Linked DNA regions of Homo sapiens: region 1 is linked to region 2. Evidence: fine-mapped expression QTL. A gene starts in region 2. The other region holds a variant in brackets. All regions are shown on one strand. Distances are between the middles of the regions.

The links.
Region 1: its variant is fine-mapped to the expression of SET in whole blood (TOPMed, PIP above 0.99).

Annotation. Positions count from the first base shown.
Region 1 is chr9:128,717,791-128,729,633 of GRCh38, forward strand. It overlaps PKN3 (protein kinase N3), which reads left to right. Exons shown (of 22, transcript NM_013355.5): 17 at 535-597; 18 at 759-835; 19 at 1,896-2,038; 20 at 2,120-2,227; 21 at 2,413-2,493; 22 at 2,604-3,126. The coding sequence ends at 2,816. ZDHHC12 (zDHHC palmitoyltransferase 12) reads right to left here and starts at 6,337. Exons shown (of 5, transcript NM_032799.5): 1 at 6,204-6,337; 2 at 4,648-4,784; 3 at 4,219-4,296; 4 at 3,861-4,027; 5 at 3,083-3,712. The coding sequence starts at 6,303. The coding sequence ends at 3,391. It overlaps ZDHHC12-DT (ZDHHC12 divergent transcript), which reads left to right and starts at 6,672. Exons shown (of 2, transcript NR_046240.1): 1 at 6,672-6,845. RefSeq lists a silencer at 6,226-6,705 and enhancers at 10,946-11,777, 11,778-11,843. The variant C/G (reference allele first, on the strand shown) is at 6,256.
Region 2 is chr9:128,684,424-128,692,481 of GRCh38, forward strand. SET (SET nuclear proto-oncogene) reads left to right here and starts at 4,799. Exons shown (of 8, transcript NM_003011.4): 1 at 4,799-5,232; 2 at 6,747-6,804; 3 at 7,435-7,577. The coding sequence starts at 5,160. It also overlaps a transcript of DYNC2I2 not described here. RefSeq lists enhancers at 221-310, 1,516-1,605, 1,646-1,745, 3,096-3,972 and silencers at 4,259-5,168, 5,549-5,668.

The sequences.
Region 1 (11,843 bases), 35 kb after region 2:
GTGTGGATCATGAGGTCAAGAGATCAAGACCATCCTGGCCAACATGGTGAAACCCTATCTCTATAAAAACTAAAAAAAAAAAAAAAAAAAAAAAATTAGCTGGGCGTGGTGGCGCGTGCCTGTAGTCTCAGCTACTTGGGAGGCTGAGGCAGGAGAATTGCTTGAACCCAGGAGGTGGAGGTTGCAGTGAGCCGAGATCGCACCGCTGCACTGCAGCCTGGGTGACAGAGTGAGACTCCGTCTCAAAAAAAAAAAAAATAGGCATGATGAATATCCACTGCAGGGACCAACACTTGGTCCCTGGCACCATTTAAGGGCCCATGAAGGGTGAGCTGGAAATGCACGCAACCTTGGGGCGACCTTGGGACTATTGGAGCACCCCCACCCTCAGCATGATGCTTGTCCCAGTCTCACTCATCTCTGACTCTGGCCGGGACATCCGGGATCCCCCCGCTATGGCCATCCTGGTGCCTCCCTGCCCTGCCTCCCTGGTGTGTGTCTTGGGCCTGAGTTCTCCCATAACCACCCCTGCAGCTTCTACGTGGCTTGTGTTGTCCTGGGGCTGCAGTTCTTACACGAGAAGAAGATCATTTACAGGTGACTTTTGTCCCAGGGATGCACGGGGGTAGGGGTGGGGGTGGGGGTGGAGTGGGTAAGGACAGATGCTGCCTCCGCCTGCCTGGGCTGCTCCAGGGGCCGTTACTGTTCCCTGGGTCTAAGCCCCACTCAGTCCCTTTGATCTGCACCCTTGCCCTCAGGGACCTGAAGTTGGATAACCTTCTGCTGGATGCCCAGGGATTCCTGAAGATCGCAGACTTTGGACTCTGCAAGGAAGGTGGGGGCCGCCCATTGGGATCCATATCTCCAGCCTTGTTTACCCACCCTGGCCAATAGGATGATGGGCACATGGCATGTCCCAGGAAATCTCCTCACCTGCGGATGCCCTGGTTCCACCACCCCAGACCTCATTCCAGGGGACAGCTGGGCACACTGGCCCTTTCTTCCTAGTCCTAGAGGCTCGTAGCCCCAGCCTGCACCTGGCCCAAGGGAGAGCCTGTGGTCAGGGATGGGAGAGGAGACTGAGTTCTGCCTTCTGTTTTTTTTTTGGTTTGTTTTTTTTTTTGAGACGGAGTCTTGCTGTGCCGCCCAGGATGCAATGCAGTGGTGCAGTCTCGGCTCACTGCAGCCTCCACCTACTGGGTTCAAGCGATTCTCTTGCCTCAGCAGCCCAAGTAGCTGGGACTACAAGCGAGCACCACCACACCTGGCTAATTTTTGTATTTTTTTAGTAGAGACGGGGTTTCACTGTGTTAGCGAGGATGGTCTCGATCTCCTGACCTCATGATCCACCCACCTTGGCCGCCCAAAGTGCTGGGATTACAGGCGTGAGCCACTGCGCCCGGCTTCTTTTTTTTTTGAGATGGAGTCTTGCCCTGTTGCCCAGGCTGGAGTGCAATGGCGCAATCTCGGCTCACTGCAACCTCTGCCTCCAAGGTTCAAGAGATTCTCCTGCCTCAGCCTCCCGAGTACCTGCGATTACAGGCACATGCCACCACACCCAGCTTATTTTTTGTATTTTTAGTAGAGACGGGGTTTCACCATGTTGGCCAGGCTGGTCTCGAACTCCTGACCTCATGATCTGCCCACCTCGGCCTCCCAAAGTGCTGGGATTACAGGTGTGAGCCACCGCACCCAGCCGAGTTCTGCCTTCTGTGACCTTAGCCTGTGAGCTTGGCTCTGCATGCAGTCAAATGGCGTCATAACCATTCCCACTTCCTTGGGTACAGGGCAGGGCTTGGCACAGGCTCAGCTCCCTGGCATCATAAGGCTTGGCTATTGAAGTTATTGTGAATAGGCCACACCAAGCAGCTATTGGTGTGCCTGTTGGTTTGCAGGGATCGGCTTCGGGGACCGGACTAGCACCTTCTGTGGCACCCCGGAGTTCCTGGCTCCCGAGGTGCTGACCCAGGAGGCATACACACGGGCTGTGGACTGGTGGGGGCTGGGTGTGCTGCTCTACGAGATGCTGGTGGGTGAGGTGAGTGCTGGAGCCTGTTTCCTGGGCCTCTGGGTGGGGGTGGGGTGGCCCGTGCATCCTGCTGAGCCCCCATCTCCACAGTGCCCGTTCCCAGGGGACACAGAGGAAGAGGTGTTTGACTGCATCGTCAACATGGACGCCCCCTACCCCGGCTTTCTGTCGGTGCAAGGGCTTGAGTTCATTCAGAAGGTAAGCACTGCGGGGTCTGGGGCTGGGCTGGATGGCCGCTCAAGGCCCATGTGCCCTCTGCCGTGGGACAGCAGACCCCCTGCCACCCATCCTTAGAGCGCTCTGGGCCAGCGTGCTTGGGGCCTGTGGATGATGGCAGTGCCTGGGGCTGAATGCCCTAAGTGAGCGCCTGTCCTATTGCCCAGCTCCTCCAGAAGTGCCCGGAGAAGCGCCTCGGGGCAGGTGAGCAGGATGCCGAGGAGATCAAGGTCCAGCCATTCTTCAGGGTGAGCGGCTGGGGTGGCGGTGGTCCCCTGTGCCTGGCAGGGTAGGTGGCATGGAGTGACTCCTGGAGCTGCTGTTCCTGCCGTCTCAGGCGCCTCTCCTTTGCCCTCAGACCACCAACTGGCAAGCCCTGCTCGCCCGCACCATCCAGCCCCCCTTCGTGCCTACCCTGTGTGGCCCTGCGGACCTGCGCTACTTTGAGGGCGAGTTCACAGGGCTGCCGCCTGCCCTGACCCCACCTGCACCCCACAGCCTCCTCACTGCCCGCCAACAGGCCGCCTTCCGGGACTTCGACTTTGTGTCAGAGCGATTCCTGGAACCCTGAGGGCATCTCCTGGCACCTCTGTCCCCTTCCCCCACAGACTGTTAGAGCCTCTGCTCGTTCACCCGTGCGCCCTGCCTGGAGGTCCAGGCCTTGCTGGGTACTTCTGAGCCCTTGGGATTCAAAGTGGCAGCCATGGGGCCACTGTTGTGGGCTTTGCTCAGTGTCACTGGGCAAAGTGTGTCCCTTCCCCCTCCAGCTCGCCCTCTTCTACCTCCCAGCGAGACCTGGCCCAGAAAGGGTGCCGCAGCAAGGAGTGATATGGTTTGTCTTTTTAAGACTGGACTTGCTTTATATTAAATTTGTAAAAGTGTGCACTGGCAGCAGCCTGGGCGGGGCTGGGGTGGAGCCCGGGGTCTGCTTGGGCCTGAGCCACCCACAGGTCCTTTTCTTCCCCTTCTTCCTTGGAAGGCAGAACTGCCCACCAAGGCAGGGATCTGTCTGACTTGAAGCTCCGTTCTGGGGTCTGGGAGGCGTGGGCAGGAGTGAGGGCCCCAGGCCCTCTGAGCGCTCACCCCAGCTGGGGACAGGCCCCGTGGTTTTCAGGCACAAGACGGTAGCCCGGCCTCCAGCAACCCTAAACAGCTGGGCTGCTGCCCTCTTCCTCCTCCTCAGCCCAGAGGGTCTCCCAGGACCCTGAGGGCCATCCACAGAAGAAGTGGGCCAGGTTGCGGGTCAGGCCTCGGTCGAAGGGGTTGCTGGGGCGCTGGCGGAGATAGGCGATGCGGTGTGAGGAGATGAATTCCCAGGTGGTGGTGTTGCTGGCCACCAGGTAGAGGTGCGAGACGAGGAGCAGGCTGGCCACCAACGAGAAGAGGGACAGCAGCAGGAAGGTGGCGAACAGGAGCCCGCTGGACCGCAACCACTGACCCCAGGGCTGGAAGAACCGGAGGCCTGACCTGCGGTGCAGGGGACAGGGGCCTGGTGCTGGGGGAGGGCAGGGGAGCCCTTCCCTCCCCATGCCGGGTCCCTGGGAGTCCTGGCTCTGTCCACCCCTGTGGGAGCATTCATCCCACCCTCCCTCTACACCCGGGCAGCAGCACCCACCATGCCAGGTACAGGCCCCACAGAAGCACCACCAGCTGCAGCGCCAGGTAGACCACAAAGAGTGGGTGGTTGCGCTCTCCCACACAGTTCTCCATCCAGGGGCAGTGGTGGTCGTAGCGGCGGACGCAACGGCGGCACTCACGGCAGTGCCGAGCCCTCAGGGGCTGCTGTGGGCATGGAGGAGAGTGGAGGCTCAGTGCCAGCCCTGCTGTGGGCCCACCACTGAGGGAAGGAATCAGGGCCTGATTCTGGAAGGCCTTCTTGGAGGAGGGGCGAGGCCCAGGCAGTGGGGCAGGAGGAGGTCGAGGAGTCTCAGCTTTGGCCCAACCTCTCCCACGGGTGTCCGTGCATCACTCACCAGCACCAGGCAGTATCTGCAGCGCCGAAGAGGGATGGCTGGAGGAACCATGGCTGTCTGCTCCTCTTTGAGCTCCTCCTGGAATGAGGGGTGGGGTGTAAGACAGGGTCCCCTTGGGAGACAGATGGCATTGGCGGGCAGCTCCCCTAGGGGCCGGCTTAGCTCTGGGTATGGAGTTTGGGACCCATCCCATGCAGAATGGAGGTGTGGGGTATGGCGGAGCACCCTGGACTGAGGGCGGCTGTGTATGTTTGCAAGTCTCTTCCTTCTCTGGGGCCCAGCAGTTTCCTCACTACTGTAGATGGGGCTCTAGGGGTGGCAAGAGGAGTCACTGAACTGCTCCCACAAGAGCCTGCAGCACAGAGCCTGGCATGGAGACTGGTGCTGGTTGTTAGGTCCCTGTTGGTGAGAGTAGGGGCCCCTGGTTACCTGAGGCTGGGGCTGCACATTCACGTAGCCAGGGTCCATGAGTGACACAGCGAGGTAGAGCAGCAGGGAGCCCAGCACCAGGAGCAGGAAGGTGAGGGGCAGGAGCAGCTCCCCCTGCTCCTCCCATTGCCGCAGCTCTGGAGAGGCCGGAGAGCACAGTGAGGCTGGGCCGGGTAGAACAGGAGTGGGTGGGGTTGGGGTGCAGTTGGAGGTGGGGAAGTGTGTTCCTGGCTGAGCAAAGGCCTGGAGATGTTGGTTCCATGAGTGGCTGTGTGTGGCCAGCAGTTCATCTGCACTTTTATCTGGAGGGTCAGAGGGAACCATGGAAGGTTATAGAGCCAGATCTGTTTTGGAAAACCTCATTGCTAAAGAAATGGATCAGGGGAAGCCTGGGGGCAGAGAATCTGGCCAGGAGGAAGAAGAGAGTCGCTACAAAGGCCTGGCAGGAAGTGAGGGAGGAAGGAATGGACAGGGGGCTGCTGGGTCAAGGGAGCCAGACCTGACTGGATGTGGGAGAGAGGGAAGAGGGGTCCAGCGTCTCTGGCTCTGCAATGGTGAGAGACTGGTTAGGTCTGAAATGCCTGAGAGAGATACAGTGGGAAGGGTGCAGCTGGCAGGCTCAGATGCTGCAGAGGGGCATACGGAAGGGTCCAGCAGGCTTCAGCCCAGGGAGGTGACAGGATTTTGGGGAGGTAGGGTGCAGGGCAAGGAGTGAGGGGGCATGAGACCACCAGACAGCAGAGTGTAGACAAATCCTGTGTCCCTTGGTTGTAAGGGGGAGCAGAGAAGAAAGGGTGGGTTTTGAGGGGGGTTTTCTGATACGGAGACCTGAGCAAGTTTTTAGGCTAAAGGGTGAAGGTGGTGGAGGAGGTCTGTCTTGGGAGGAAAGCCAGAAGGGGCCCCAGTCCAGAAACTGAGGCTGGACCGCCATGGAAGGAGGGCTGGGGTCTGCTGTGGGGGACAGTGGGGGAGGCTGCCTGTGGCAGGTGAGGCGCTGGGTAGGGGGCTACTAAGAGGAATGAGGGAAATGGAGGTGGGTGGGTGGGTGAATCTGTGGGAAGATGGGAGACAGGCCGCACCCCATGGAGTGTTCTCTGGCCTGAGGGTTTGCCTGGACTTGGGCAGCTAGTGGCCATGGGGGTGTGGGGGGTGTGGGTGTGGGCAGAATGCCAATCTTTGCATCTAGTTGAGCCTCCTAATCGTATGGATAGGAAGATTTGGGGTCAGTTCCTGGGAAGGATCATGTGGGTCCCAGGATCAGGGGACATGGGGCTCAAGTCGGTCCTTGGATCTGGTGGGCACCGGCTGGGTCCTGGGATGGACAGGGCATTTGGCAATGATCAGGAAGATGCTGGGATTAATTAGGGATCAACGGGGTATCAGACAGAGAGCAGGTGGCTCTTGGAATGATAGATGGGGAGAGGGCTTCAGGAGCTGGTGGAGATCGGGCCAATCCCAGGATCTCCAGGGATTAGGCGGGAGACCCAGTGTGACCAGAACGTCTGGGGAAGTACGCGGGATCGGGTGGGTCCGGGGTCGCTCGGGGTCCGGCTCACCGGTATCGTGCAGGAAGAGCACCAGCGTGATTCCCCAGGTCAGCACGGTGTG[C/G]CCGGTCCGCACCAGGACCCCAGGGCTGAGGAGCGCCCAGGGCGCCATCGCCTCGGCCCGGGGCCCCACCCGGAAGAAGCGCCCAGAGGGGCGGGCCCTCCGAGGGAGGGGAACGCCGCCGCCCGGGGACTGGTGGATCTAGGCGTTGGGCGGGGCCGGACTGGGTCAGGGAGGCTGCCTATTGGATGGCATCTGCGGCCGAATGGACCCTCAAGCCAACAGGTGCCTGAAGAGGCTGAGGGTGGGGCCGGCGCGCGCGCAGCTGGTAACTCCCTCAACTCCAGCCCCACCCGCCAGGTAACTTTTGAAAGCGCCGGAGCGCGCGCGCACCTCCCCCGCGCTCCGCTGTGCCCTCCCCCGCGTTCCCCTGTGCCCGCCCTCGCAGCCTCGCGCATGCGCGTAGCTCCCTGGGCGCTTCGAAGATCCAGCGGCTTGCTGTGAGTCCGGGAGGCAAAATTGTACCCATTTCAAAGATGTGATGACTAAAGTCTCGAGAGGGCCAAGGCTCGCCCAAGGTTGCTCTGTGGTGACAGCTTTACCTCCTTGCTATGTATTCTCAGATATTGCAAACGGACGAGAGAAAAGTGGAGGTACGTGGTGCACATTCTGACTATGGGTGATCCAACTTAGGCGGGAGTCAGAAATCCCAGCACTGCCCCTTCCTACCTGTGTGACCCTGGGCGAGTTACTGAGCCCCTCTGAGCTGTTTTCTGTCTCTATAAGGGGGATTACAATAGTGTCTTCCTCCTAAGGTGTTTGGGAGGATTAAATAATGGAAGCGCCTTGTCTAGCACGGGACTGTCTTGCCTCTCCTGCTGTGAGCCACCACCTACAGGCGGACTTTCCTCACCGGAGGCTGCAGGCTGTCCTCCTTCCCTGTGTCCCCAGGGCCTTCTCCACTCAGCCCCGCCTTTCCACAGCACCTCCCACTGATACCAGCATCCTCCTCCGCCTCCCTCTGATTGGCCCCATCCCAGCTCCTCCAGGATACTCCTCTGACATCTGTTGTTTTTCTCAGCTCAACATCCTTTTTTTGGTTGGGGAATCGACTTCCCATCCCATGTGATTGGAGGGACTGCCCCTCACCCCATAGGATGGCGAGCGGCAGGCTGTGGGCTTTCGACTCTGCAGAACCAATCACAGGCCTTCCATGAGATTACTGTCTAGATGCTGAGAGGAAGGAGCATTCTTTTGGATCTCAAGCCTAAGGAATGGGATATAAGGCAACTGGGAGCCGTCTTTACGCTGGGCGGAGAGGGCTTACCCTGTCTGTGGCTGGAGAAAATGAGACCAACTTATAAAGACACATAGAGATGGATAAGCAGCACTAAAGGAGGGAGCAAGAGATGGTCTGAACAACATTGTCTGAGCCCTCTAGATCCGGCTGTCCCTGAAGCTGATACTGACTCTGCATCCCCTGGTTGCAAGAGTCAATGAATGCCCACCTTTTTTTTTTTTTTTTTTTTGAGACAGAGCCTCACTCTGTTGCCTAGGCTGGAGTGCAGTGGCGCGATCTGGGCTCACTGCAACCTCCACCTCCCAAGTTCAAGTGATTCTCCTGCCTCAGCCTCCCAAGTAGCTGGGGTTACAGGCACATGCCACCACGCCCAGCTAATTTTTGTATTTTTAGTAGAGACAGGGTTTCACTATGTTGTCCAGGCTGGTCTCGAATTCCTGACTTCAAGTGATCTGCCTAACTCAGCCTCTCAAAGTGCTGGGATTACAGGTGTGAGCCACCATGCCTGGCCCCAATTCCCACCTTTGACTAGCCTGAGTAGATGTTTGAGTTGGGTGTCTGTCATTTGCAGCTAAGTCTTGACTACTGCACTGGGTGCAGGATCTGATGTGCTCAGTGGGGACATCCAGCACATTATCCACTCAGCACATAATTCTGAAGCTTCCGTGGGTTAGGCACTGTGCTAGTATCAAACATCCCAACACTAGTTCAAATAGTAAGGCCAGATTTTAATTAACAATATACTACTGATAGGGCGGAGAGCCCAGTGTGAACCAACTGAAACTTCTGTTTGTGCAGAGGTGACTGATGTTTTTTGTGGTTTTGGTTTTCTGCTTTCTTGAGATGGGGTCTCGCTATGGCCTCAAACTCCTGACCTGAGGCAATCTTCCCCCTCAGCCTCCAGAGTAGCTGGGACTGCAGGCGTGCTCCACCATGTCTGGCTTAAAGGGAGAATGAGGGAGTGGAGGGAAACGGTGAGGGCTTCAGCAGAATAAGGGAAATGAAAAATTCCAAAGGGTTGGTCATGGTAAATGTGATTAGGCAGCTCCGCGTGCTCGCTGGCAATGGTGAAAGTTAGGACTCTGTTCTCCTGCAGAGACTGGGAGACAGAGGCTCTGTCCTTCCTGATATTACATTTCAATAGAATGGCCTTCAGGTCCTTGAAAAAGACACTTCTGAGTTGTAGGAGATACACACTCATCTCAAATGGACAGAGGAAGGATCACAATTGTAAGTTCCCATCCCACCACACTTTTTTTTTTTTTTTTGAGACGGAGTTTCGCTCTTGTTGCCCAGGCTGGAATGCAATGGCGGGCTCTCGGCTCACTGCAACCTCTGCCTCCCAGGTTCAAGCGATTCTCCTGCCTCAGCCTCCCAAGTAGCTGGGATTACAGGCACCCGCCACCATGCCCAGCGAATTTTGTATTTTTAGTAGAGATGGGGATTCTCCATGTTGGTCAGGCTGGGCTCAAACTCCCGACCTCAGATGACCCGCCCGCCTTGGCCTCCCAGAGTGCTGGGATTACAGGCGTGAGCCACTGTGCCCAGCACTTTTTTTTTTTTTTGAGAGGGAGTTTCGTACTGTTTCCCTGGTGTGATCTGAGGCTCACTGCAACCTCCGCCTCCTGGGTTCAAGCAATTCTCCTGCCTTAGCTTCCAAAGTAGCTGGGATTACAGGCACGTGCCACCACGCCTGGCTAATTTTTTAAAAATTCTTAGTAGACACAGGATTTCACCATGTTGGCCAGGGTGGCCTTGAACTCCTTACCTTGTGATCCGCCTGCCTCGGCCTCCCAAAGTGCTGGGATTACAAGTGTGAACCACTGTGCCCGGCCAGAGGTCACATTTCTTAGGGAGACTCAGTAAAATGGCTTTATGGTTTAGACATCAGTCTATTTTGGAGAGGTAGGTCATGTTTGAAGGTGCTGAGCGGCAAAATTAGTTTCTTTTTTTTTTTCTCTCCAACTTTTATTTTAAGTTCAGGGGTACATGTGTAGGATGTGCAGGTTTGTTACATAGGTAAACATGTGCCACTGTGGTTTGCTGCACAGCTCATCCCGTCACCTAGGTTTTTGTTTTTGTTCGTTTGTTTTTGCAATGGAGTCTTGCTCTGTTGCCTGGGCTGGACTGCAATAGCACGATCTCAGCTCACTGTGACCTCTGCCTCCTGGGTTCAAGTGATTCTCCTGCCGCAGCCTCCCGAGTAGCTGGGATTACAGGTGTGCACCACCACACCCAGCTAATTTTTGTATTTTTAGTAGAGACGGGGTTTCACCATTTTGGCCAGGATGGTCTCAAACTCCTGACCTCAAGGGATCCGCCCACCCTGGCCTCCCAAAGTCCTGAGATTACAGGCTGAGCCACTGTACCCAGCCTGGCCACAGGTTTTTAAAAGGAGAGCCCTCCATGTGCCAGGTTTTGTGCTGGGCTACAGCAGAGCCTTGATGTGGCTTGTTGCTCACAGTCCAGTGGGGGAGACGAGACAAGGCAATTTCAGCCCCATGAGATAAGTAGGTGCTGTGATGGGATGAGCAGGAACTAGAGTGTTCCTGACACAGGAAATGGCAAGTATCAGGCCAGCGAGCTAGAGGAGGAGCACCTGGCACATCTGAGGATCTTGTTTTCCCTCCTTTACTGTGGCAACCTTGAGGTAATAAGTCATGTCAGGCCAGGTATGGTGGCATATGCCTGTAATCTCAACACTGTGGGTGGCTGGAGTGGGAGGATTGCTTGAGCCCAGGAATTTGAGACCAACCTGGGCAACACAGTGAGACCCCATTTCTACAAAAAAACAAAAATTAGATGTGCATGGAGGTGCACGTTTGTTGTCCCAGCTACTTGGGAGGCTGAGGTGCAAGGATTGCTTGAGCCCAGGAGGTCGAAGCTGCAATGAGCTGTGATCGTGCCATTGCACTCAGCCTGGGCAACAGTGAGACCTTGTCTGAAAAAAATAAAAAGTAAAGTCACTTCACCTCTCTGAGCCTCAGTGTCCTTGTCTGTGAAATGGATTATTGCCAGGGTTCTGAGGAAGCGGAAGGTACATGAAGCACTTAGCCCGGGGCCTGGGACACAGAATAAGGTTCAGCAGTGTTGGCTGCTGCTGGCAGGCACTGCCCTCATTCCCTCCGAGGCACAGACGACCCACCAGGGTTCTGAGGCAAACCACTTGATGCCCTTCCTGCCCAGGTCCTGTGGGTGGCCAGTGGCAGGGGGCTGTCAGCCAGGGGAGAGAGAGGCCAGGTCCAGGCCCTGCAGGGGGTGGAGAAGAGGGGACCTCGGCTTCACAGAGGCTGTGGGAGGAGTCAGTGCTCAGCTTCCAGAAATGCTTAATTGGGTCCTGATGCCCAGGCTTAAAACCTCACATAAAGGGTAAAATCCACACACTCACGGTGGCCTATAAAGGGTGTGACCGTATCATTTCTTTTTTGTTTTTTGAGACGGAGTCTCGCTCTGTCACCCAGGCTGGAGTGCAGTGGCACCATCTGTGCTCACTGCAAGCTCTGCCTCCTGGGTTCACACCATTCTCCTGTCTCAGCCTCTCAAGTAGCTAGGACTACCGGTGCCGGCCGCCTAGCGCAGCTAATTTTTTTGTATCTTTTAGTAGAGACGGGGTTTCACCATGTTAGCCAGGATGGTCTTGATCGCCTGACCTCGTGATCCACCTCGGCCTCCCAAAGTGCTGGGATTACAGGCGTGAGCCACCGCACCCAGCCCACCATATCATTTCTTATTCCAACCAGGCAGCTCTTAAGGATGACAAGGCACTGTTGATAGACGTGCGGGGACCACAGGTGTCAGCCAGGACGGCCCTGGGCCATGCTAGAGTCTGGGCACCTCACAATTTGGCACCAGCGACTTCCTGGTCCCCTCCCACTCTACCCTTGTTCCTCACGCTGCCAGGGCCACATGGGGCTGCTTCTCTGTCCACCCTGGCGGGACCCTCTGCTGAGGATGCACTTTTCCTCAGCCCCTCGGGCCAGGCCTGGGCAACCTCCTTCTTTTCCCTGGGTTTGGCTCCACTCTGTCCTCTTGTAAGAAGCCTCCCAGACACATGGGGACATCGTGCTGGCTCCTCCCCCTCTCCCCAAAGCACTGTGGCCCAGCGGACTCCAAGCTTCCCTGATCCGCCTGCCCACTCCCATCCACTGGCAGGAGGCACCTCCTCCGCTGCCTTCTCCCTGATGGTGGCACAGAGTTGTAATCTTCTATTTGCCATCTGTCTCCCCCATCAGGCTGAGCCATCTTAGGCAGGCACCCTGTTGGTCTGGTTGCCAGCTGTGTCCTCAGTGGGCACAGGGATGTGAAGAGAACACATAGGAAACAGGTACTCCAGCTCAGTCCCCTGCCACCT
Region 2 (8,058 bases):
ACAACTCTGGCCTGAATCTCTGCCACCTCCTCATCTTGGCTTCCAGCTTCCTCCTCCTCCCCTTCAGCCTGAGCATAGCCAATCACGTGGCCCACTCCCCGGCTTAAACCCCTCCCTTGCCTCCCCGCGTCCTCCAGGTGCTCAGAAACTTCTCTGGCCCGCCAACCCGGTCCCCGCCGACCTCTCCTGGTTCACACTTCTGAGACTCCCCACCTGGAGGCCTCCCTCAAGGTGGTACCCTTCACCTTGACCTCTTGGGACTCTACCCTCTGATCTCGGGGCCTAGACACCCACTTGCCCTTTCCTCTCCTTACCTGTGCACCACCTCCAGCTCTCTGCTGGAAAGTCACTTCCTGTGGGCAATCTGTGAGCCCCAACACTTGGGAGTTAGGAGTCCCAGAGTCATGCTGCCTCACCCTCTTGTCATTACATTGTAACCAGCAGTTTCATGCCTGCCCTTCCCCCCATTAAACTTAGAGGTGAGGGCTGCATTTTGGGAGACGTAGCTGGAGCTGGATAGAGAGTTGACTGTTCTGGTGACTAGGTCTGGCTCATAGGGGAGGGTTGTGGTGGAGCCTTCCTGGGCTGGGTGTGGATAGGCCCAGGGCCTGCAAGGAAACGGGAAGCTTTGATTGGCTGAGGGCAGGCAACTCTTATGGAAGAAGCACTGAGGAGGAGTCCTACCTCAGGGCTCAGTGTGGACCTGTTGGCACTTTTACTGGGTCTCAGTCCCTTTTCCTCCACATGGGATGCAGAGACCTCCTGCCCAGCTTGAAACCTACCTTGCTGGGTGAGCCACATAAAACAACTTGTGCTTGTTTTCTCTTCTATAAAATGGGATCCACAGTACTGATCTCCAGGCTTGCTGTGAGTCTGAAATCTAAGGGGAGCACTAGACAGCGCCTAGCACATCATCAGTGCTCTAGAGTGCATTTGTGCGCAGCAAAATGTGGGTGAGTCTTCCTAGTTTCCTTCCAGTGAGCTTCCTGGGAGCATTAACAGGACTGGAAGGGATGGAAAGGTGTGAGGGGGTTCATCTAAACCCAAAGAACAGCTCCTGCTGCTTAGTAGGCACTGATGGCATGCCAGAAGCTGTGCCAAGCACTTCTCTATCCTCACAGCCGTATGCTGTGGACATCCCAATTTTACAGATCAGAACAGGAGGCTCAAAGAGATGTGTATGTGTCTGTGGCGGGGGAGATGTTCCAGGCTCTGGAGATTTTTTGGTCTGTGCTTGGGACACTGCAGCACTGTGGGGGAATGCCAGCCTCTCTCTGTTCCAGTCTTTCTGGCGGTGGGGTTCTGTCCTCTTCAAAGGGAGCCGGGGGCCGGGCGCGGTGGCTGACGCCTGTAATCCCAGCACTTTGGGAGGCCGAGGTGGGCAGATCACCTGAGGTCAGAAGTTCAAGACCAGCCTGGCCAACATGGCTAAACCCCATCTCTACCAAAGACAGTTAGCCAGGCGTGACGATGCATGCCTGTAATCCCAGCTACTTGGGGGGCTAAGGCAGGAGAATTGCTTGAACTCCGGAGGCGGAGGTTGCAATGAGCCGAGTTCGTGCCATTGCACTCCAGCCTGGGCGACAAGAACAACAACAACAACAACAAAAAAAAAAACAACCAGAGGGGCCAGGAGGAGAGGAGAGAGGCAAGGGAGGAATTCTGAGTGAGGGGAGAGGCCAAGAAGAGAGAATGCAGAGCTTCTGGTGTTGGAGACGGGGAGAGAGCAGAGTCCTAAGAGTGGGTGAATAACCTCTCAGTGTGCCCCCGGCTCGCCTGTGTTTACTCACACCCCTGGCCCTTTTGCTTTCTCTTTCTCTTCAACTTCCTAGTGTGCTCATATTTATCTTGAGAAGCACTGTGTGGGGAAGGGCAGGAAAAGAGGGGCAGGGAGGTGGCAGGGAGGGTTGGGAGGCCAGAAAGGGAACCTGAAAGCCCACTCCCCCATCAGAAGGCATTACAGGGTTCCCTGGGACCCCTGCAGGTGCTTGGGAAACAGGCAGATAAGGCACTTAGGAGACATTGTGGGTCAGGAGTGACCCTATGGGTCAGGCTTTGAGGATGGAAGCAGCCAGCCCTTGGCATAGTGTTCTCAGACAGACTCAGCCCAGGAGCGGGTCGTGAAATCAATTTGGTGGGGTGTGACCTGCATTTTAAATAGGAAATTAGAATCACATCACCCTTGGTAAGGGTAAGTTTTGGTTTGTGTGTGCTAGGTCATGATGTCAAAAGTACTTCTGACTGTTGGTCACATTAAAAAAACTGAGGCAGGGTGCGATGGCTAACTCTTGTAATCCCAGAGCTCTGGAAGGCTGAGGCTGAAGGATGGTTTGAGCTCAGGAGTTTGAGACCAGCCTGGGCAACATGGTGATACCTCCTCTCTACAAAAGATAAAAACAAAATTAGCCAGGCAAGGTGGCAGTGGTGCTTGCCTGTGGTCCCAGCTACTCAGAAGGCTGAGGTGTAAGAATCCCCAGAGCCCAGGAGGTCAAGGCTGCAGTGAGCCATGGTTCTGGGCGACAGAGAGAGACCCTGTCTCATAATAATAACAACAATAAAAATAGAAAAACTGTTTTAAGGTAAGGGCTTTGTCAATTGCTACTTGGTTTAGAATCTTGGTTCTGTCACTTGCAACAAAGTTTAGTTTATGCTAGGCACAGTGGGTGGCTCATGCCTGTAGTCCCAGCACTTTGGGAGGCCGAGGTGGGCAGATCACCTGAGGTCGGGAGTTCGAGACCAGCCTGGCCAACATGGTGAAACCCCGTCTCTACTAAAAAATACAAAAATTAGCTTGGCATGGTAGTGGGCGCCTGTAATCCCAGATACTCGGGAGGCTAAGACACTCACCGTGCACTGTCTTGAACATGAAAGATGCTGCTTGAGCTTTAAGAGCTGATAGTGGGCCGAGCTCAGTGGCTCATGCCTGTAATCTCAGCACTTTGGGAGGCAGAGGCAGGTGGATCACCTGAGGTCAGGAGTTTGAGACCAGTCTGGCCAACATGGTGAAAACCTGTCTCTACCAAAAAATACAAAAATTAGCAGGGCGTGGTGACTCACATCTGTAATCCTAGCAACTCAGGATGCTGAGGCAGGAGAATCACTTGAACCCGGGAGGCGGAGGTTGCAGTGAGCTGAGATGGCACCACTGCACTCCAGCCTGGAAGACAGAATGAGACTTGGTCCCCTCCCCCACCAAAAAAAAAAAAAAAAAAAAAGAGCCAATGGTAAAGTGTGAGTTCTGGAAGGCAGAATTCCAACCCCAAGTTCTGGTTAAAAATGTCCAAAGAGAGATTTCAGGTATTTTTTTGTTTTTGTTTTAGAGATAGGGTCTTGCTCTGTCACTCAGGCTTCAGTGCAGTGGCTGCATTGGGGCTCATTGAAGCCTGGAATTCCTGGGCCCAAGCGATCCTCCTGCCTTGGCCTCCCAAAGTGTTGGGATAACAGGAGTGAGCTATTGCATGGCCAGGATTTGAAATTGGCCAGCGTATCACTAAAATCAACAAATGGTACTGGCCGGGCGCAGTGGCTCCCGCCTGTAATCCCAGCACTTTGGGAGGACGAGGTGAGTGGATCACCCCAGGTCAGTAGACCAGCCTGGCCAAGGTGGTGAAACTCCATCTCTACTAAAAATACAAAAATTAGCCGGGCATGGTGGCACGTGCCTGTAGCCCCAGCTACTCGGGAGGCCGAGGCAGGAGAATTGCTTGAACCCGAGAGGCAGAGCTTGCAGTGAGCCAAGATTGCGCCACTGCACTCCAGCCTGGGGGACAGAGCAAGACTCCCGTCTCAAAACAAACAAACAAATGCTACTAATCAGGGTTTTTCTGGCTTTTTATGGTTCATGTCTTGGGGTGCTGGAGGGACAGAATGTGGGGCATCCGCATTACTTGAAAAGTATTATTTAAACAAAATGCTTTGGCCCTCCTTAGTGGTTCAGAACTTTGCCTCTCAAGTAGAACTTGTTGGCCCCTTTCATCTCTATGAACAGAACACCGCCTATCGCTTGGGGCTGTTGTGAGGCCTCGGTGAGATAACCGTGCCATGCGCTGCTGAAACTGGCACTTAACGCTCAGTATGATTCTTGCGGGCGCTGGGCACCGCGGACTAATGTGGTACCTCCCTGCCTTCACAGGACTTCGAGTTTAATGTGGCTTCAGTGTCGTAACCTTTATCATTTCATAACAGAAACGGGTTCAGAGAGGAAGGGTGACTTGCTCAAGGGTACAAGCTTGCTGGGCAGGGCTTGGACTAAAACCCAGGAATGGCCCTGCGCGCGGATTACACAGCCTGGGGCTTCGCACACGAGCCCGAGTTTGAGTCCGATCGGCAGTTCCCCATCTGGCATCCAGAATGGGGTGCCCCCTGCTTTCTCCACGAAGTGGAAGGCGCCGAGAGGCCGGGCGGAATTCGGGGCCCCCATACGAGGCCGGGCCTGCACTTTCGGGGTGGTGGGCGCCCCGCTCCCGGTGCCCCGCGGAGCAGGGAAGCCGCTCGCTCACCACGTGACGCGCCGGCCGGGGGCACCCGCGCCTCCGTGCGACGCCCCGCCCACCGGCCTGCCGCGCGCCAGTGTCCTGGGTCGGGCCGGAGAGGGGAGAGCGGGGGAGGGGACGCGGCGCGGGGGGCGGCCGTGCGTCGCCGCGCGCCTTCCTCCCACCTCTCGCCGGGCCCTGTGTCTCCGCGCCGCGACTCCGCCCCCTCATCCCGCCGCCCAGGCCAATGGCGCCGCGGCGCGAGCCTCCCCGGCCGGAGGCGGAGCATCCGCGCGGGGCCTGGCGCGCCTGCGCCCTGCGCCCGCCCCTCGCCGTAGGAGGAGGTGGAGGAGGAGGCGGCTCGGGAGAGCGAGCAGCGAGCTGGCTGGATCGCCGAGCGCGAGTGAGGGAGCCGAGCCGCCCGCCGCCGCCGCCTCCGCCTCCCCTCCGCGAACAGGAGCCCGGGCCGGGGCCCGGCACGCCGCCCCAGCCCGTCCCTCGGCGTCAGGCCGCGAGGGTAGCGCGCGCGAGCGAGCGAGGGGGAGGGAGAGCGAGCGAGCGCCGGGAGGAGGCGGCCGGACCGAGCGGGCGCCCGCGCGTGTGGCGTGAGGGGAAGCCGCTTGCCCGCCCCCTTCGCCTTCCCTTCTCTCCCCCTCCCCGCTCCCCCCCCGACCGCGGAGCAGCACCATGTCGGCGCCGGCGGCCAAAGTCAGTAAAAAGGAGCTCAACTCCAACCACGACGGGGCCGACGAGACCTCAGGTGAGAGCAGCGAGCCCGGGGGCCGGCCCGCGCCGCCATCTTCGCCGCCCGCCCCGGCCCGCAGGCCGCCGGCGGGGCCCGGGGCGCGCGCGGGGGGCGCCGGGCGGGGGGGCGCGGCGCGGCCGGGCGGGGGCCCGCGGACTCGGCGCCCTTTTTTGTGCGCGGCTGGGCTGGGGGCCTGGGTGGCCCGCGCCGCGGCGGCCGCGCTGCGAGGCGGGGGCGCTGCGGCCTGCTCGGCGCGGGCGGAGGAGACCCCCCCTTCCTCTCCCCCCTCCCTCGCTCTCCTCCCCCTCCCTCCCTCCCGAGAAGCCTCTCTTTATTGTGCTCCGCCATGATGCCTCGCTCCCATCAGCCGCCGCCGCCGCCACATGGTGCGGCCGGACGCGGCCCCGCGCCCGACCTCCCGCGCGGTTCCGCTTCGCGCCCGGCCCGCGGCGGCGCCCCCGGCACCCCCGCCCAGAGGCTGGCCCCGGCGGGGCTTCTGCCTGGAGCTCGGGTGGGGTGGGGGCGCGGGGAACACGCGGGCGGCCGCGCGCTGGGCCTTGGCCGGCCGGGAGGATGCTCTGGCCAGCCCGGGCGCACTCCCCACGTGGGGCGGCCGCCCCGTCGCGCCAGCGTGCGGAGAAACCTGGCGCCGCGACCAGTGTATCGGGGGTCTTGGAAATGGCTAAGAAAGCTGGCCTCTGCCTAGGAGGCTCTCGGCAGGGGGGCTGCCAATCCGGGATGGTTACCGGAAATGAACCGCGCGATCTGGCCCTTTCACACCCACTTAGCTTTGTAGGGGGTTTGTAGTCTTTACAGGACAAAAGGGCACCTATTCCAGAGCACACCCCCTTTTCTTCCTCTCCCTTCTGTGCCTCACTGCTTTCCGATCTCATAGTTGCTCCCAGTAAGTGCTCCAAAGTCGTGTGGGGCCGCATCTGAGGTCTGCCCGCCTGAATTGGGTTGGAGGGGTTCATGTTCTGAGAAGGCGAAGGCCAGGGTGTAGGATGGTGCCCCGTGACTTTCCAGTCTTTGTAGGCGTGCCTGGTATCTTCATCGTAATAGCAGAGTCGTCAACTTTCTATGAAAGGTGGTTTTACCTTGATAGGTGGTAGTGGTGGCCTAATTTGTATCATTGTCATGGGTTTAGTTTCCATATTCTAGTTAGCAGCTGCTACTGTTCTCTTGCAAGTGTATAATGTGAAATAATAAACGTGAAGACTTCTGAATAAGGTTATTCTGTGTCTTTCATAGTAGAAACCTTAATGATCGGTCTGTTGTAGTGAAACTCTTTAAAAAGGCGCTATAGAAAACCAATTTCTGAGTAAACCAGCAGACAGCATGACTTGTAAATGGTCTTTTAATTAATTAAAAAGAAATTAGTCAGCTACAAGCATGAACATGTGGAACGCTTGCCTTTGTACTAGGCGTTTTTGTTTTTGTTTTAATGGCTTTTGGAATATTATAGTATTAACATCTGGAAAACTAGGTAAATTTATCTTAGAATTAAGTTTTTTGCTCCTTTTTTGCAGAAAAAGAACAGCAAGAAGCGATTGAACACATTGATGAAGTACAAAATGAAATAGACAGGTAACATTTTTCTTAATATACTTCGGAGAAATTTTCTGAGATGTGTCTAATAGCCCGGTAATTATCGAAGCTATGGTCAAATCTATCCACTGTCAAAGGGGAAATGATTCTAACTTGGTTGGAAATACTTATGTAGATTCAGTGTTTTTTGGTGAAGTGATTGTACAGAAGTTTTTGAAAGTGCATTGACCTTACAAGGTTTGGGTTTGCTTTCAAAGACTGAAAATTGTCTGAATTGCAGTGTAGGTCTTCTGATGGTTTAGCAGTGTGGCATCAGTGGTTGCTCTAACTTGCCTTACAACTTTGTTATGGATTAGCCACTTTATTTAGAAATCGCGCTTGAGGGAAACAATTGAAATTGGACTGGAAATGGAGTGGGCGAAGTAAATACACACGTTACCAGAGTGTTGAGTTTGGGCACTCTTAACAGTCATTATTACTCAGTGTTTATTGATAAATCAGACAAAATTGCCATCTTAGTTTTGAGTGTCTAAATTAGGTGATAATGGTTATTATAATTTGGTTATTTTGCATGACTCAAGCTAGTAAGTAAATACACTCTGTAATCTCAACCAATTTTTTAATTTGTTAAATACTATCATTGTCAACATCTCTTTTCATTTGCTTCAGACTTAATGAACAAGCCAGTGAGGAGATTTTGAAAGTAGAACAGAAATATAACAAACTCCGCCAACCATTTTTTCAGAAGAGGTCAGAATTGATCGCCAAAATCCCAAATTTTTGGGTAACAACATTTGTCAACCATCCACAAGGTATGTTTTGGACAGGGCATTGTTAAAGGATAAACAGTGTTTGTTAGAATGGAGGAAGCTTGGTGAAGACTTAGTCCAGCATGCTGGGTTGCGTGCAACAAAGACAGGCTGGGTGCGGTGGCGCACCTGTAATCCCAGCACTTTGGGAGGCCGAGGTGGGTGGATCACTTGAGGTCAGGGGTTCGAAACCAGCTTGGCCAACAGGTTGAAACCCCGTCTCTACTAAAAATACAAAAAAAATTAGCTGGGCGTGGTGGCGCGCGCTTGTAATCCCAGCTACTCGCTACTTGGGAGGCTGAGGCAGGAGAATCGCTTGAACCCAGGAGGGGGAGGTTGCAGTGAGCCGAGATTGTGCGCTTTTGCATTCCAGCCTGGGCGACAAGAGTGAGACTGTTTCAAAAAAAAAAAAAAAAAAAAAAAAACCTCAAAGACGGGAAAAGATATACAGCTACTGCTTTCTATTCTGTTTAGGAGAAGCTAT